4 linked regions of the Homo sapiens genome follow. The protein of the gene in region 2 purifies or fractionates together with the protein of the main gene of each other region. This does not show direct contact. Each region holds a gene or a part of one and is shown on either strand. Other genes may lie near its edges.

Region 1 (4,936 bases), on a different chromosome or scaffold from region 2:
GGGGAATCCATGAATCTGCTACACTTTACGATTAGAGAACTGCTGTTTTGGGGGAAATGAAAATTCTTTAACACCTATACTTTACCTGTTTTCTTCATGTCTCACTGAATTCCACTGCTGTTTTTTCCCTTCTTTTAATAATCATAAACTGCAGTCTTGCTGTATCAAGATTCTTGTCCTTTCACAGCTTAACAGTAGATTTTACAAAAGCATCTTGGTACATGGTAATTTGAATGTCATAGTACATAAGGAAGCACTTTTATAAGAAGGTAGGATGCTTTACTTGCAAGTAAGGCAAAAGGAATAATCAAAAGGAAACCAGGTAAAATAGATGGAGTAGGCAGAAGTATAGGGGGACATTTCAGCTAGTTTTAAAGGCTCAGTGAGATATTGCTCAGTTTCTTCTTCAGGTTTTATGTGGTAGTCTTCTTTGAACCATTGATTTGAAACCCATACCTGCTTGAAAAATAGATTAGTTTAAATGAAATTTTTGAAATTCTTGTTGTTACTATATGCGTATTCAACAGGGAGTAATGTTCCCTTTAATTTTATTTAGTTGCAAGCAGATGAATATGCTGCATAAGTAATAAACTACAAAGACTGAACTTACATGGATGTTTTAATACTACAATCAAATAAAACTTTCAACAGTTACTTGACATATTTAGTGATATGCATAATTGTTACTGCGCTGCATGGTAATTAAGATAAATATGTTTTTAACTGTGGTTAATACCAGTTTTCTTTTTTTTTTCTGATGGAGTTTCGCTCTTGTTGCCCAGGCCTGGAGTGCAATGGCATGATCTCAGCTGACTGCAACCTCTGCCTCCCAGGTTCAAGCGATTCTTCTGCCTCAGCCTCCCAAGTAGCTGGGACTACAGGCGCCTGCCACCACGCCTGGCTAATTTTTTGTATTTTTAGTAGAGACAGGGTTTCACTATGTTGGCCAGGCTGGTCTTGAACTCCTGACCTCGTGATCCGCCTGCCTCGGCCTCCCAAAGTGCTGGGATTACAAGCGTGAGCCACTGCGCCCTGCCCAGTATCTGTTTTCTATAGGCAGATCTCAACATTTGTGGGGAGAAAAAGAAATATGGCAGGCCAAGAATCTGTTTCAGAAATTTCTGATGTAGAACATGAGGCGCTTTAGGGCTTTTTGAGCAGGGTTTGCTTTTACCTTAGTTTCCTAATTCTAGGGACCATAGACTTTTCTTTTCCCTTCTGTTAGTCAAGACCATCTACTAGAGGGAGAAATTGGGAAGATTCAGTCACTGTTTTACTTTCTCCAAATAGTTATCTGCCTAGTAACTGAAGCTTGGGACATGGAGTTCCCAGTCATTGATAGTTAATGCACAGAGGACAGTTTCTTTCCCCACTTAAGCCAAAGCAGTTCCAGGTCCCACAATCTAAGTTATCATAGGTGCTAGTATTTAAGTTGTCCTATTAGTCTGGGTCTTTGAGAATTTCTGAACCTGAATTTCTCTTTTCCTAACCTAGGCTCTCCACAACAAACATAAGACTATCCAATGCATATGAAACAAATTGAAATAAAAGCAAAGTTAACATCGTTACTAAACCAAATCAAAATGTGATAGCTTAGAATATACTTTTTTCATACCAGACCTGCCTTCCACTCCACCCACACCCTCTCAGCTGAAATTGAGAATCACACATATTTTTGCCCCTGGAAAAGTACATACAAGTCAGAAATTCTAAAGCTCTGTGGAAACAATAACTGGGAATTATTCTTATTTTTCCTGTGACTTTTTAGGGATGATTTCTATTCTCTGTGCAGCATGGCTGTGTGTAATGACCGTTCGTTGATGAAATATTTCTTAGTGCTACATCTGTGTTATTAAATTTTTGTACTGTCTAAAAAATAATATAATATTGTGAAGATTTCCTAATATTTTAGAACCTTCTATATGTCAGTTCAGTATTGGTTGATAGAGGTAGCATTTGTATAAACTAATTCAATGATTAAAATGTCTAACGCTTCATACTGCTTTACCATTTATAAAGTACTTTTGCATACATTATCTTATGATTCACTCATATCATCCCTGTGAGCTAGGTGGTATTGGAATCATTTTCAAGAAGAAAAATTCTAGGTACATAGAAGTTAAGTGGTATGTTTATATTCACACAGCTAGCAAGAGGCTTGAATCTGTATCTTTTGACTTACTTTTCAGACCACTTTCACAGATGCCTTCTGCTACATCAGTTAATACAAAAATATACTATTAAAGATTAAAACACATGCAATTTTAGTTCAATAATTTAGGTTATAAGCGTAATATTTATTATTTAAATAAAATTTAGGACAATAGCATAATAATTTTTCAAAATGAATCAATTATATATTGTGACGGATGAAAAACTGCCATTATACATGAGAAGTTGAACCATGTGTTATATAAGCAACTGAGGGATGAAATTAAATTTGCATTTAAATGCTGTTTAAGGATCATTTTAGTGTAGCTATAGCATAAATGATAAAGTAGAAAAATGATATCTTTATAAAGTACCCACATATTGTTAACTATTAGGTCAGTATAATATCTCTCATCAAAGATTTTTAATGTCAAGTCCATAATACTTTGAGAGGAAATGACTAATTTCTCCCATTTTTTAAAATAATACTTTTCAGATATTTCAGTTGAAGGAAGAAATAGCTCTTCTCCTAAGATGGAATCTGTGGTTTGGGAATGTGGTTGATCAACTTGATATGTTGGCCAAATGTGCCCCATGTAATAAAATGAAAAGAAGAGACAAGATGATGTCATTTTCCCATATTGTGAAACCAAAAACAAACGCCTTTTGTGAGACCAAGCTAACAAACCTCTGACGGTGCGAAGAGTATTTAACTGTTTGAAGAATTTAACAGTAAGATACAGAAGAAGTACCTTCGAGCTGAGACCTGCAGGTGTATAAATATCTAAAATACATATTGAATAGGCCTGATCATCTGAATCTCCTTCAGACCCAGGAAGGATGGCTATGACTTGGATTGTCTTCTCTCTTTGGCCCTTGACTGTGTTCATGGGGCATATAGGTGGGCACAGTTTGTTTTCTTGTGAACCTATTACCTTGAGGATGTGCCAAGATTTGCCTTATAATACTACCTTCATGCCTAATCTTCTGAATCATTATGACCAACAGACAGCAGCTTTGGCAATGGAGGTAAGACTTGATCTATTCTTTGACGTATCTTAGTAAATGACTCTTGTGTTGTCCCATCAGCCAATCTAATGAATGTGTTTGATAAACAACAGGAAAATAATATGCTATTTTAAATTATATCTTATAAATTTAAAAATGTATATGTTTTGCTTCAGACTCTAATAGATTGAAGAATTCACATTTGGTGAATGTTACTCTTATATTTTAGACATTATACTTTTATAAAGAAATTTGAAACATCAGAACATGGGAGATAGCAGCCATTCAGAAGTTTAAAATTTAAGAATAACTCCCAAGCAGTGAAAAAGTTTTTGTCAATGCGAATTATCTGTTCTTGATCTCTCAGAATTTTATGAAAGTTTGCTGCCTTATTTGAATTTTTCAGTGGTAATTCTTCAGACATTTCTTAATTATTTTAGTTTAGAAACTATTTCAAATTTAGAAACTATGGACACATTAATTGATATAGTTAATAATAGGTTTAAATAAGGGTATATCTGTCTATAATGGTTTTAGAATTGAGGACAGGGATATATATACCAGATAAGAACTAGCAGGCAGTAAGCAGTGGTGGTAATGACCATAGGCTTTGAGGTAGACAAACCTGGGTTTGAATTCTACCTCTACCACTTTCTAGCTGTATACTTTGGCCACGTTATATGAACTTTCTCACCATAGTTTCTTTGCTTGTAACTTAGAGACTTCAGTAAGGTACAAAGTGAAAATCCATGTATAGTACTTGGCGCATAGTAAGTACTCTATAAGTGATAGCTTTTACCGTTAATTCATATTCTCATATTAACGTGGTTACATAACATAATTTAGAGGGAATGTTTGATACATTACTCTTCAGCCTATTTCCATAGCGCTTTCAGCAAATGGAAGCCTACATGTTTTGGAATTCTTCATTTTATAATAAAACCGAAAAGTTCATCATTTTAAGGGAGACTAACCTAAGTCTAAGAAAATTTGTAAGATTATTATTCATAGATTTTGAAATAAGGAGGGCATCTTATATATTCCAAATATTTGAAAATGCTGTAGAGGTTGAACAAAACATTTTTTGCTTTTCCTCTGAGTACACGAGGTCTAAGTGGTTGAAGAGAGAGAATTGGTATAGGCTATCAGATTAGGATATATAAAAATGGGTATTGGTTTAATACAGTAAGTTGGTTCCAGGCATGGTAGTCTTTGCTATGTATTAAAGCTATCAATTTCTCACAGAAAATTGAACTAGAAACATTTTTATTTCTGGTATCATTTTAAATCATAACTCCTTTGGGAAGCAAATAGGTTAATAAGAAGCAGGTCATAAAGATGTTTGTCCTGACTTGGGTTCAACTTTTGGCTCTGCCATGTAGTAGGTTTAAGACTTTGGACAGGTTACTTAACACTCCTGATCTTTGTTTTCTTCATTTGTGAAAAGGCAGTATAATGATACACCTTGAAGGGCTGTTAGGATTAAATAAGAGATTTATGAAGTAGCTAGCACAATGCATCATACGCAATAGGTGATTCACAAATATTAATTCTACTCCAAATTCCATTTCTAAATCATCTAAAGGGAAGTACTAGAAACACCATGTATTTGCTCCAGTGAATTTGCATCCCTCATTGTAGGTTCATGGGGCATTCATTCATAGTGATAGCATGATAGGCTCTCTCTGACTTCTCAAATATGCACAAGTAGTCTAGATATTTCAGTGACAATGGGGTTGCCTCTGTTTGAATTTCAGACACTGACATTCTGGGGAGA
Region 2 (3,913 bases):
ATAATTTTCAATGTGCCCAATATACCAAGCCTCCTTTTAATGAGAAATTCTCATCATTCTCCCTCTCCCAAGAAATACAGCCACAGTAGAATCAAGGAGAGACTTTATGGTCTCTGATTGTGTCTTTTGTTGATGATTCAGAGGCACTTTAGAAACCTGCAGAGCCTCAGGGTCATCATTAAGAACATTCATCATCACATTGGCTGTTTAATAGAATCCCAGTGAATAGACTGCCAGATAAATCATCTCTTTTGTATACTGTAAATTAGGACTATGTAGATAGCCAGTCAAGATATGCTGAAGCAAAAATTAATGACGGCATTTGTTTGTTATTTTATTTTGTTGCATTTTATTGGTGGCAGCAGGGGGCACCTTATTCTGTTAGTAAGGTCCCCTTATATTTTTAGTATTGAATGTCATTTGTTTTATGAATGATGAGAATACTTGTAGGTGTAGTTTGTTTTTAATGATTTATCTAAGGGAAGAAAATATCAATCTTACATTGATCCTTTAAACAAATATAAATGATAATAGAAATGCAAAAATCCAGGCTGAGTGCAGTGGCCTGAGTAGTCCCAGCTGTTTAAGTGGCTGAAGCAGGATAGCCTGAGCCCAGGAGTTTCAGACCTACCTAGGCAACATGTTGATACCCTGTCTTAAAAAATTTTTTTACAAGAGAAAGAAATGTAAAAACCAAGAACAACAACTCAATGATTTCCTCTTCCAGAAAGAATAAGAAACTCCTGATTCCCTTTTTACTGCAGTATCAGATTTCAATTAAATTTCAATCAAAGAAATTTACAATACAAATAACTTATTTTATACTTATTTTAGTCTTTCTAGAAGAAATCCTGCTCCTTCTTCAAGGAATTGCAGTGTGTCAATAATAGACTGAAACAATAGACTACTTTTCTGAAACATTTACTAGTATAACCTACATTCCTTGTAAGCTGATCTGACCATCCCTAAATGTATTTTATGTGAGGAAAGAATGATATCATACAAATTAAAATATGTTATTGTTAATTTTCTAGGCTTGATTTCAAGAAAGAAACTTACTATTTGATTCTAAAAACCTTATTCACATTGGGTAGGATTCTATTAATACAAAGTATTGACATTTATTAGGTTAATTAATTCAAATAAGGCCATTGATTTTCAATATAATAAGAAATGCTGAAGGATTATTATATTCCAAATATCTTTTCATTTTTATGATACATATTGTACAGTAGAGAATGATCTCTTCACATTAAAGTAACAACTTTATAAGCCTTTTACTAAATCTCGATAATAGATCAGCAAAGGACCCAAACATTCTATAAAGAATGATCATATAAAGTATACACATGAGGACAATCTTTCTATATATAATAAAGATAACTAGTTGGAGCTTGTCAAAATTTTACTACATACTATATTAATAAATAAACTGCAGGCTTAACTTACCTCAATTCCTCAACTCCACAGGGACCCCTCACATGTGAGGTCTTAAGGAAATCTGTGGAAATCTGACTTATATTCAGTGATTGGCTGCTGAAATCTGGGAACTCTTCTGAGGTTAAGCTGTAAAGCTTTTCTGAAGTATCTGAAATATTTTATTTCATGCATTGTCAAAACATAAATTCAAGAAACAAATATACAGCATATGGTGCTGAATGTTTACCCAGAGTAAATTACAGGCAATACAAAGAAGGTCAGCATAGATTTTTAATTATTCCTCAATTTTCTAATGTTTGTGAGGTAAGTTTGATTTGAGATTCCAAATTGGGGCATGGGTAGCAAGTCATTTTTATCATATTGATTTGTAAATATACATTACATTTATAACATGTGTCAAATGTCCTGAGACCTCATAAAATTTCAAAAAAAAAATCAAATGACCCCCTTTAAAGCTACAATATTTTGCAGCCACTCAACCTGTTGGACATTTTGTTATCTTTTTTCTTATAAGAAATAAAAGCTTTACTCCCACACAGTCTAAGGGAAAGATTAGCCTTGGCAAAGTTGCTCTTTCTTTTTTGACTTCCTTGCTTTGTTTGAGTAGATAATAACTGTTCATATTTGAAAGCAGAGAAGCCTTAAATTTTTCTTTTCATGAAGCTGGCTTATGATTTAGCCTAGCTAAGGACAAATACTGCAAGTTAAACAAACAAAGTCTTTAGGCAAATGTATCTTCATATAAACTACCAAAAATTCAAGTATGTAACTAAATATCATTGTATATTAGAAAGGCTACAATGCCTTCTTTTTTCACTGCTGAAATTATAATGAGCCACCTAACTTATACATAAAGTTATACTATGATGACTGTTAAAACTGTCAAAATTACTGGTTGCTATTCTTCCCTTTTTTTTTTTTAGACAGAATTTCGGTCTTGTTGCCTGGGCTGGAGTGCAATGGTGTGATCTTGGCTCACCGCAACCTCCGCCTCCTGGGTTCAAATGATTCTCTTGCCTCAGCCTCCCAACTAGCTGGGATTATAGGCATGTGCCACCACACCCGGCTAATTTTGTATTTTTAGTAGAGACGGGGTTTCTCCATGTTGGTCAGGCTGCTCTTGAACTCCTGACCTCGTGATCTGCCCACCTCGGCCTTCCAAAGCCCTTTACTTTTATGAGAGGACCAAATAAACCTCCTCCTGGTCACAGGAACCAAACATCAACATACATGTGTTCTACAGTGGACTTGACTTTTTTTTTTTTTTTTTTTTTTTTGGTGGTTAGTATCAACTTGACATTTTTGAGCAAATAGAGATTTCCCTACTGAAAGTAAATCAGATTATTCCCACTGAAAAATAGACCTCAATAAATTTACACATGGAAGTGTCCCTAAATTTGTTTAGCCCCTTGACTTTGAAATCATGATGCATGGGTACGTTCAATAAGCTTAGGATTTGGTTCCTGCTCCCACCATATCCTCAGCAATCAGGACTTTACCTGATCTAAATTTAGGGGCTCTATATAAGATTAATTTTGAAAAAGACAAAAGATTTTTTAGTTAAAATTTTTTAAACCTCCTAATTACTTCCATCTTCACTTAGAGATCAGGGAATTATGGGCCCATGAAGAACTAATAACTTGCTGAAAGTCACACGGCCATATAGTGGAAGAGCTGAAACTAGAACTAATCTCTGGTAGCTCACCAATATTGTAAATCACTCTGTTCCAGAATCTAATTCTTTAGCTTTAAGCTATTATCTTCTCTCCTATTTTTCCGTATGGTAAAAGAAGACCCAAGGCACCTTTACATGTCCTAATGAAAGGGAATGCTCCCACAAGAAAGCAGTAAATTCAGGATTTGGAACTGGTAGAATTACAGTACTGAAACCCAACAGCAATGCTTTGATCTAAAGAATACCAGCAGGTGAGATATCCAAACTCTATTATGCATTTGAGCTAATTGAATGAGCATAAAGCTGTTCCGAGTTGTGCAAATAGAATGAGTCTATTTTTCTAGAACTATTTATTCTCAAAATTATATTTCAGAATACCTGTAAAGTTAACAGGAACAAAGGTGATACCACTTGATTTTAGGTAACAGAAAAATCAAGGCAGAGAAAAATAAAACTGCTCATAACAACCCTATTGTAGGTTAGTGTTAAACTCAAAAGGTCAATTGTACACAAATCTGTCTGCTGATTTTTCTAATTCAGCACCAGGTAAGACAGGATTAACATTTATATTAGAAAAGTTACAACTGGCAAGTCAGTTGATTGTTGAGAAATAAATTATAGTTAAACCTTTTCTATCCCTGGAGTAAGAGTACCTTCTCTGATCATTGAGGAATCTCTTTAAAAATAATAGCAATTAGACTAAGGAGAAAAAAAATAGATAAAATATAGAGTTCTAAGGTGCATTTCTAAAACTGAAGTCATTTAAAACACATACATAAAACTATATTCCATAGATAA
Region 3 (4,936 bases), on a different chromosome or scaffold from region 2:
TCTCTTTTAGGATCGTTCATAACCTGTCTGCAAAAAATGTAATAAGAAAAGATTCTATAAACATATGGGAAATTGTCCTCTGTTTCTGCACCAAAGACAGGTGAAATCTTTAGGACCTTTGTAAAGCTTGGCTCTGAAGAAAGACTTTTTTCTTGAAAGGTTTAAAACTCTGAAGAACAAGAAAACAGTCTCGCAAACTCTTAAAACAACAACAACAAAAACCAAGTTGTTTCCAAAAGAAACCAACCAATGCTCCCACTATCTAAATTAGTTTAGGATAGATCCATTTTCTTATTTGAGTACCATTTTGATTTTTCTCACTTTGAAGATACATGTCGTCCCAATTAACAGAAAATAAGCCTAATTCATTGAAATAATTGAGAAATTAAAAATGACAAGAGAAACCATTGCTAGGTATTAATATAACATATAACATATAACAATTCTTGCTCTTGAAGATGATAAATTCTAAAACTCAAGAAGTAGATTAAAAAAATTTTTTAAACTGCAGTGTGGATTAGCAATTCTGAAACTACAATATGAATTGTTCTTTTGAGTATCTTTACTTGTTCAATCTGAGAACAGGTAAAGATAGTGTGAATAACACGAAGCCCTGTTTCTCATAGAGAAGTTATGGATATGAAAACTGGGAAGGCTAGAATAAACCCTGTAGTGCTAAACTGGAATCAGAGGCATCAGTACAAACTCATGGTTTTTAAGATATAGAAAGAGAGATAAAAAATATGAGAGGTAAGAAAATAGAAATACATAAAAATAGAGAAAGACAGAGAGAAACAGAGCCACAAATAGATGGATAGAATGAGACGTGTGTATATTGCACTCACATACATTTATTTCCTTGTTGTGTCCACTGAGATGGCCTAAAAGCAATGATAGGCCGGGTGAAGTGGGCCTATAATCCCAGCACTTTGGGAGGCCAAGGCAGGTAGGTTGCTTGAGCCCAGGAGTCCGAGACCAACCTGGGCAACATGACAAAACCCCGTCTCTATAAAAAATACAAAAATTAGTTGAGTGTAGTGGCACACACTTGTAGTCCCAGCTACTCTAAAGGCTGAGGTGGGAGGATCACTTGAGCCCAGGATGTTGAGGTTGCAGTGAGCCGTGATCATGCCACTGCACTCCAGCCTGGGTGACAGAATGAAACACTGTCTCAAAAAAAAAATTGCAATGATAAACCAATGGTAATAGGTACTTAGTGTCCAGATCTTGGTTTCAAAACACAGTTCACCACTAAACGGAACAAGGACTCCTGGAGAAAAAAAAAATGGTTTCTACACCGGCATGCGGAATGTACTAGATGAACCTGGAACATCTTACTGAGCCAGAAAGCAAAGAAGTGCTCAATAATGGGGAAATGTCAAAAGGACAGAGAAGCCACATTGGGGGCAATTTGAACAACAAAGTAAGTAGGCTTAGTAATACATTATAACCCATAGAATAAAATAAGAATTTATGAGTCCACATTGACATAAATAAATGATGAAGGAGAGAAAGCTCAGACTTACAGAAAGATTCTAAATAATGTGTAGAAGGCATGTCAGAATTAGAATAATCATCTTTGGTTACTACTAATGTAATAATTCAAAGGTAAGAATCACCAAAAATGCTAACACTAGTGGATGAATGTGAAACTGCCTTTGCAGAAATTGTAACAGTGAGAAAATTATGATGGTGAAGGAGATCTGACCTGACAACTCCATCTTGCCTTTCACCCCCAAACTCCCTTAGCCATTCCTGCAGTGGGCCAAGCTAACTTTTGTAGATAGTTTATAGTTTAAATGATGACAGCAAAATGAAACTGCCTTTGTAAAACTAATGAAAGGACACCAGGTTAGGAGGATGAGAGGGGCCTGAATTCTGCCAAGATGTAGGTGTAGTTAAATGATTACCAGTCATTATTCCAGAGGTCACAAGATTTGTAACCTCCCTGTAAATAACATCACTATTATAGAACCTAAGATTGGCCTTCTGAGATGTCTTTTCAGGTTTTTGTATTTCTGACAACTGGAGGCCCTATAACTGGATAGACCAGTAACTCCTCTGTTGTCCCTACCCAGAAGTGGACTCAGCACATGAGGACTGTTTTCCACACCTCTGTGATTGCATCCTCAGCCAATCAGCAGTACCCATTCCTTAGCCCCCTGCCCACCAAACTATCCTTGAAAAACTCTAGCCTCCAAATTGACAAAGAGGCTGATTGGAGTAATAGTACAACTCCTGTCTGCTGTTTAGCCAGCTTTATGTGTATTAAATTCATTCTCTATTTCAATTCCCTTGTCTTGATAAATTGGCTCTATCTTGACAACAAACAAGATGAACCCATTGGGTGGTTACAAATGTATAATGAGAAACATTTACATACTTTCAAAATATGTATCTATTAAATGATTGGAGGGAAATTGTTAACTTTTCAATAAAGAACCAGGCAGATACCACCTTACCAAGGGATCAGAATTAACATCACCAGCATGGGCAAAACTGACATCTTGTGCCTCCTGATATGAGGCACTGAGAAGGATACACAGCACTTGTGTGATCTTCTTGCCACAAATGCAGAGCCGGAACCTAACCCTAAGGAAACATCAGACATGTTCAAACTGAGGGAGGTTCTGCAGAATATATAACCTGTGCTCTTCAAAAATGTCAAAGTCATAAAGGACAGGGAGAGACTGGGGAGTTGTGTCAGATTAAAAAACGACAATAAAATACAATGCAATTTTAGATTGGATTTTGGACCAGAAAAACAATTTTTTTCAGTGATTATAAAGGCTATCAATGGGAAACTGATTAAATGTGAATGTCTAGAAATCAGATAATAATTAGATATCAACATTACATTCCAGATTTTGATAATTATGTTACGGCTACACACTGTTTTTCAGTAAATAAATACTCTGTTAAGTATTTGGAGGCAAAGGGCATCATGTCCTCAACCTACCCCTAAATGGTTCAGAATAAAAATGTGTATGAATGTATGGAGGGGGCAGGGAGGGAAAGATAAAGTTTATATGGTAAAATCTTACATTTGGGGAATCTGGGTGAACAACATATGGAAAATCTTTGTACTATTTTTGCAACTTTTTGTAAGTTTGAAATTATTGTAAAATAAAAACACATTTTTTCAATGTTATTTGTCCACAGAAACTAGGAAAATTATACTCAGTCAGTTCTCATCGTTAGCTTCTCGTAATGAACTGAAATCGTTTGTTATAACAATAACAGCGTAACAAAGAACAAATCATAATAAACCTTTGATACTGGCAGCTGTAAATCAGATAAAAAACATCTGTTGTCCAGCCCTCCTCTTTTCAAATTACCTTTAAAGTAAGTTAACTTTAGGGCAGGTACAGTGGCTCATGTTTGTAATCCCAGCACTTTGGGAGGTGAAGGTGGGAGGATCGCTTGAGCCCAGGAGTTCGAGACCAGCCTGGCCAAAATTGTGAAACCCTGACTCTACTAAAAATACAAAAATAAGCCAAGCATGATGGTGCATGCCTGTAATCCCAGCTACTCAAGAGGCTGAGGCACAAGAATTGCTTGAACCGGGAGACGGAGGTCATAGTAAGCCAAGACTGCCCCACTGCATTCCAGCCTGGGTGACAGAACGAGCCTCTCTGTCTCAAAAAATAATAGTGATAATAAAATAGGTAAACTCTAGAGATAATAAACAACTTGAAAGCAACAATTTATAGTAGAAAATATTCTTTTAACTCCAATTCAGAAAGCTACTGACATTAGATAGACAAATTATCAAATCCTTCTGGGCCACAGTTTATTCATCTGAAAAATGAAGGGGTTCCATCAGTTTCTAATTCTATTCTATTAGAGCATAGTCTATTCTACTAGATCTATTCGTAACTTCTCTATGAGAAATGGGACTTCTTATTATTCACACTATATGGTCTATTCTAATTCTTACATCGCGAGAATCTAGAAATGAATTTCATGATAAAAATACTGGTTGCTTGCTTTAAAACTTAAGAGTAAAATATGGATCTCACTTGAACAAAAACTTGAAGTCCAAATACAACAACAAACTGAATAATAAGTATTTATTAACTATCTAATGTTGGGGCTCAGGACATACCTCCCCAGAATATGACTGAAGGAGACCAGAATATGTGACCCCAAAATATGCCTCCTTTGCACATTTTGAGAAAGTGTAGACATAGGAGTAGCTCTGAAAAGTTACCTTTTTAAAGATAAATTTGTGCCTATACAAGAAATCTCTGCTTATAAGGGCATCTCCCTCTCTGCAACAGGAGGAGATGACTAAGTAAAGAAGACATCGACTTACATCTTCATAACAAACTTCACCTTCATTTAAGGTGCTTTTCCTGGCCATCTCATCTTAACAGGGTTGTTCCCCACAACCTTTTTTACTTTGTTTCAGAGAATGATGGTATTTAAGCCCAAAATTTAAATGCTTTCTTTGAGATCTACTCTAGAGACTTGCTCATTTCTCTGGGGTTTTCCCGTGTATACATGAGGCATACATATTAATACACTTCTGTTTTTCTTCTGTTAATTTGTCTTTTGTTACAGGGAGCCTCAGATAAGAGTTATGAAGGACAGAGAAAATTATTACTTTTTCCTTCTCTACACTACCTTGTTTTTCTTGGTGTTTTTTTTTGTTTTGTTTTGTTTTCTTTTTTTTTTTGAGATGGAGTCTTACTCTGTCACCCAGGCTGGAGTGCAGTGACACAATCTCAGCTCACTGCAACCTCCACCTCCTGGGTTCAAGTGATTCTCCTGCCTCAGCCTCCCAAGGAGCTGGGACTACAGGTGTGCATCACCATGCCCAGCTAATTTTTGTATTTTTTAGTAGAGTCAGGGTTTCACCATATTGGACAGGCTGGTCTCGAACTCCTGACTTCATGATCTGCCCGTCTCGGCCTCCCAAAGTGCTGAGATT
Region 4 (5,595 bases), on a different chromosome or scaffold from region 2:
AAGGAGGTTAGGAGCACAGGGGAAGGGGGCGAATGCCGCGGTGAGAAGGTGACCTGTGAATAAGTTTCTAAGTACTTTTTTTTGTTTGTTTTTGAGATGGAGTCTTGCTCTGTCACCCAGGCTGGAGTCAGTGGTGAGATCTTGGCTCATTGCAACCTCCGCCTTCCAGGTTCAAGCAATTCTCCTGCCTCAGCCTCCTGAGTAGCTAGGATTACAGGCACATGCCACCATGTCCGGCTAATTTTTGTATTTTTAGTAGAGATGGGGTTTCACCATGTTGGCCAGGCTGGCCTCGAACTCCTGACCTCAGGTGATACACCCGCCTCGGCCTCCCAAAGTGCTAGGATTACAGGCATGAGCCACTGTGCCCGGCCTCTTAGTACTTTTATATGTATAAAAGACTTGAATCCTCCCAACAAGCCACGAAGAAGGCTCTATTATCACCCCTGTTTTACAGGTAAGAAGTCTGAGGCCCAAGATCCTACATCTGCAAGTGGCAATGTTGATATACAAACCCAGGCAGTCTGGCTCCAAAGCTAGCACTTTGGGCTGTACAGGAGAGACACAGTAGTGACCAAAGGTAGACAGTTTCCCCACATCAGATTCACAGTCCAGAAATTTGAGCGGTTTCAACGAGTAAAAAACCACATGAACAGTAATATTTAAAATTTAAACAAGGCTGGGTGTGGTGGCTCAGTCAAGAGTTTGAGACCATCCTGGCCAAGATGGCGAAACCCTGTCTCTACTAAAAATACAAAAAAATTAGTCAGGTGTGGTGGCCCATGCCTATAATCCCAGGCACTCAGGAGGCTGAGGCAGTAAAATCGCTTGAACCCAGGAGGCGGAGGTTGCAGTGAGCTGAGATGGCACCATTGCACTCCATCCTGGGCGACAGAGTGAGACTCTGTCTCAAAAAAAAAAAGGAACAAAACAGTTGAGGAAACAGAGGCCAAGAGGGGTTACCCATCCAGGAAGGGGTAGTGCCAGGATTCCAACACAAACAACCAAGCCATGGCACTCATGTTGTCTTATCTGTCGATCAGCATTACTGGGCCCTGGTATGAATGGTCACTTTTAGACTAGGTCTTTGCAAGACAGATCAACTCTGTGCTGCCAAACAAAAAAAATAAATAAATATTACCCCAAATACACAGTCATAATATCAGTATTAGCTAACATGAATAGAGTACTTGCCATATGCCAGTGTTGTTCTAAGTGCCTAGGATATGTAACCTCATTGAATCCTCACAAATACCCTATGAGAGATTTCTACATCATTATTCTCATTTTACAGATAAGAAAACTGAGGCACAGATAAGTTCATAACTTGGCGGGGCACAGTAGCTCACGCCTGTAATCCTAGCACTTTGGGAGGCCGAGGCAGGCAGATCGCTTGAGCTCAGTAATTCAAGACCAGCCTGGCCAACACGGCGAGACCCTGTCTCTACCAGAAAACACAAAAAAATTAGTCAGGTATGGTGGCATGCGCCTGCAGTCCCAGCTACTCAGGAGGCTTGAGGCAGGAAGATCACCTGAGCCCAGGGAGGCTGAGACTGCAGTGAGCCGAGATCAACCCAGTGCACTACAGCCTGGATGACAGAGTAAGACCCCATCTCAAAAAAAAAAAAAAAGAAAAGAAAAAGCGAAGTTCATAACCTGCCAGGAAGAACAGGACTAAAGTTTAAGCTCAGGCTGCCTGGGTCCAACCATACCATCAGCAGCAGTCTGTGCTCTTAGCCACTTTGCTATAACGCCTCTCTGAATTTGCTATTGTTATATGTAGTTTAATAGCTCAAAGGGCACTTTCAGGAACATATAAGATAAAGGCTATGAAGTATAGGGTGCTGGGTGACAGATGAAGGTGGCTGTTTGCTTTAGAATGGGGTTCGAGAAGGCCTTTCAAGATAGCGACATTCAGGCTGAGACTTGAAGGATGGGAAGGAGCCAGACAGGCAGATTGCAGCAAAAAGCCCAGGCTGAGGACTCACCAATCACAAAGGCCAGGAGGCAGAAAAGAATATGGAGCCTCAGGAAAACCAAAAGCAGGCCAGTGTGACTGAACCTTGGTGACAGAGAGCACATGGGAGGTACAGCCAGAGCCCTGTAGCCAGGAGTGGGCGGTATAATCACAGTGCAGGAGAAAGTCATGGGGCAGGAACAAGCTCCACCAGCAGCTACCAGGTATCCTCCCTTTATCTGGACTCCGTGCCAAGAAGATCACAATTAAAATTTCATTTCCCTCCAATGCAATAGTATAATTTATTTATTTATTTATTTTGAGACAGAGTCTCACTCTGTCGCCCAGGCTGGAGTGCAGTGGCATGACCTCAGCTCACTGCAACCTCCGCCTCCCAGGTTCAAGCGATTTCTCCCGCCTCAGCCTCCTGAGTAGCTGGGATTACAGGCGCGCGCTAGCATGCCGGGCTAATTTTTCTACTTTTTGTAGAGACGGGTTTCACCATGTTGGCCAGGCTGGTCTTGAACTGATCTCAGGTGAACAGCCCACCTTGGCCTCCCAAAGTGCTGGGATTACAGACGTGAGCTACCGCGCCCTACCAGTAGTATGGTTCTTATCATCTCCATTTTATAAAAACAGATTTTGTGCCTACACAGCTGGAAAACAATTTTTTTAATTGCCGCTGTGCTAATGGAATTCCTTCTACCTACTGTGAAATCATTTCTTTCCATTTTTCTGTCTCAGGATTTAGGGAACTGTTCTGTACGCCCTCCTCCCCAGGCAGCACTGCAGAGATTTTATAAATAACTTCTCACGTCTTTCTCATAGTTTTGAGTGACAATATGGATTAAGAATCCCACCTTGGTGAGGAAAAAGGATAGAGATCGCAGAAGGTGAGAGAAGGCGGGGTAGAAGCGAGGAAGAGTTGGGGCAGGTAACACTCTGGACCGAACCCTCGAAGGGACCTTAATGACTCAGCGGGGGCCAGGGCAGTGAGGCTGCAGTGAGCTATGATCGTGACGTCTAAAGGCGATAGAACGGGGGTTAAAATATAGCAGGACTAGGCTGTGATTTACAGAAGCAAAATGCATTTCCACGGGTGGGAACCAGCGAGGAACCCCCGAATTGCTCCAACGCTGAGGGTGGAGCCGGGAAAGCAGCGAGGAGAAAGTGGGAGGGGCCGTGGCTAAAGGGGCGGGGGTTAGGGGACGAGGCATGGCAGGGAACAACCTGAGGGGACTGGCCGGGGGCTGATGTCGGGGCCACAGTTCTCAGGACGGGACTAGGGGAAACCTAGGAAGCCTGGAACTGGGGTAGACATGGCGAGCAGCTTCTCACCCGGTTCTGCACCGTCTCCTCGGAGGCCGTCGAGAGTCGCGTCCGCCGCCGTAGGCAGATTGGTGGGGCGGGGGGCGGGGAGGACTGGCCCCTCCGCGCCGGAACTCCCGCCATGACAGAGGGCAGCTTCTCCCCTGCATCGTTCCGCGCATAGCCTCCGGACCCTACGGCCGCCATCGTCACGCCGGAGGCGGGCGACCGTTACATCCCCTAACCGCCGCTGCCGCCACCGCCACGACCCACTGGAACAGCGAACAGCCGCGGGAAAGCCGGCGCCACCGCCTATTGGACGCGACGGGCCCGGCCTAGCCAATCGCAGGGATGCCGGGCGGCGCTTAGAACCAATGGGGGCGAAGAGGCGGAGCGAGTGCCTGGCGGGGCGGGGCCACAGCCAGTGTACTGGATGCCTGATTAAGCGTCATGGGGTCTTTCATCCAGACTGCGTTTTCATTATTCGCTGAAACATACAGGTTTTAATTTTTACGAGGCTAAGGCCACGGCCGCCTCACCTCGGTTTTTGCCGCCACCTAGAGGAACTATGTGCGCCCCAACGGTTGCCCGGATGTAGGCGTAGGGTGGAGCCGTAAGAGATTGACTAGCCAGTTGATTTGGTTGGCGCAGGCTCAGAAACGCCGTGACGCCGCCCTTCCCCCCAACACGTGATGAAAGTCGGGGTGACGAAGGGCCGGCTTTGCGCAGGTGCACAGTACTCGCTATGGCCCATTCGTCACGTGACGAGGGCGGGACTGTGGCACTGTGGAGGGGCGCCTAGTAGGCAGGCGCTCTCAGCTCTCTCCCCGGTACGTGACGAGACTCCACGGACGTCACGTGAGGCAGGCGGCGAGCGCGGGTGGGGCGGGGTTAGGCGGCGCTCCGCGAGAACCAAAGTGCAGCCGCTGACCCGGCAAAACTCAGCGGGGGCTGGATAGCCATGCCCAAGTACTGCAGGGCGCCGAACTGCTCCAACACTGCGGGCCGCCTGGGTGCAGACAACCGCCCTGTGAGCTTCTACAAGTGAGCGCAGCGCGGGGCGGGGCTTGAGGGAGGCGGGACCCTGAGAGGGGTGGGGCCCGAGCATTAGTGCTGCTGTGCGGGGCTTCTGGTCTTGCTTGAGGGTGTTAGGAAGTGGGGTTAAACCATGAGGAGATGGCCTTCCTGGCAGTGTCCATTGCACATACAAAGGTGCAGGCGTGGGAAACAGGAGTAGACGATTGACTACAGATAGCGAGCGAAGCGAGCCGAAGAGTGAAAGGGATGTAAGAAGTGAAGTCGGTGCAGGCTGTTAGAGAGCCTGCAGATGCCCACTTGCCCTCCCCACGCATTTGAGCCATCTGAAACTCAGAGCATCCGAAACTGAGCTTGCGATCGTGTCTCCCCAAAACCTTCCAGTCTGTCTTATCTTAGTAGCGTGCTTCATTCTTCTTGTTGCTTAGGTTTAAAAAATGTCATCCTTACCTCTTTCGTCATACTTGGGAAAGTCAGAATTAGCTTCGACTGTAAAAGATCTGTCTCCTTATTTATCTGGCTGACATAAGCCAGTTGGTGGAAGAATTACTAGGAAAAAACATTTCTTTGCTTTTTTTTTTTTTTTTTTTTGAGACAAGATCGCTTTGTCGCCCAGGCTGGAATGCAGTGGAACGATCACAGCTCACTGCAACCTCGACCTCCCGGGCTCAAGTGATCCTCCCACCTCACCCTACCAAGTAGCTGGGACCAGAGGCACGCGCCACCATGCCTGGATAATTTAAATTTTTTTTTTTTTTTTTTTTTTTTTTTTTTTTTGCCAGGCTTGGTGGCTCACGCCTGTAATCCCAGCACTTTGGGAGGCCGAGGCGGGCAGATCACCTGAGGTCAGGAGTTCGAGACCAGCCTGGCCAACATGGTGAAACCCCGTGTCTACTAAAAATACAAAAATTAGATGGGCGTGGTGGCTCATGCGTGTAATTCCAGCTACTCCGTGGGCTGAGGCAGGAGAATCGCATGAATCCAGAAGGCAGAGGTTGCAGTGAGCCAAGATGAGGCCACTGCAATCCAGCGTGGGCAACAAGAGTGAGACTCCGTCTCAAAAAAAAAAATTTTGTTTTTAAAGAGAGAGATGGGATCACCCTATGTTGTCCAGTCTAGTCTCAAACTCCTGGGCACAAGCAGTCCTCCTGCCTCGGCCTCCCAAAGTGCTTGGATTACAGGCGTGAGCCACTGCACCCAGCCAGGAAAAAATATTTCTCTTGGACATACTGCAGATGTAAAGTGGCAGAATTCCCATCCTTTGAGTGTCTACTGCTTTCTTAGTAGGAAACTTT

What was found. Proteins that work in one complex are often made in the same cells at the same time.
Region 1: the proteins of ZBBX (region 2) and FZD3 purify together in Homo sapiens (affinity purification with mass spectrometry; 2 studies listed by BioGRID and IntAct, with this or other methods). This does not show direct contact.
Region 3: the proteins of ZBBX (region 2) and DHX32 purify together in Homo sapiens (affinity purification with mass spectrometry; 2 studies listed by BioGRID and IntAct, with this or other methods). This does not show direct contact.
Region 4: the proteins of ZBBX (region 2) and WDR62 purify together in Homo sapiens (affinity purification with mass spectrometry; 2 studies listed by BioGRID and IntAct, with this or other methods). This does not show direct contact.

What each region holds. Positions count from the first base shown.
Region 1 is NC_000008.11:28,500,023-28,504,958, forward strand, and holds part of FZD3 (frizzled-3 isoform 1 precursor), read left to right. Parts: intron 1-2,647; 5' UTR 2,648-2,991; coding exon 2,992-3,180; intron 3,181-4,936. UniProt on the Homo sapiens protein: Receptor for Wnt proteins.
Region 2 is NC_000003.12:167,241,056-167,244,968, forward strand, and holds part of ZBBX (zinc finger B-box domain-containing protein 1), read right to left. Parts: intron 1,589-3,913; coding exon 1,450-1,588; intron 1-1,449.
Region 3 is NC_000010.11:125,874,046-125,878,981, forward strand, and holds part of DHX32 (putative pre-mRNA-splicing factor ATP-dependent RNA helicase DHX32), read right to left. Parts: intron 1-4,936.
Region 4 is NC_000019.10:36,052,849-36,058,443, reverse strand, and holds the start of WDR62 (WD repeat-containing protein 62), read right to left. Parts: upstream 3,548-5,595; 5' UTR 3,473-3,547; coding exon 3,296-3,472; intron 1-3,295. Other genes in the region: THAP8 (THAP domain-containing protein 8), read left to right, coding at 4,227-4,309. UniProt on the Homo sapiens protein: Required for cerebral cortical development. Plays a role in neuronal proliferation and migration.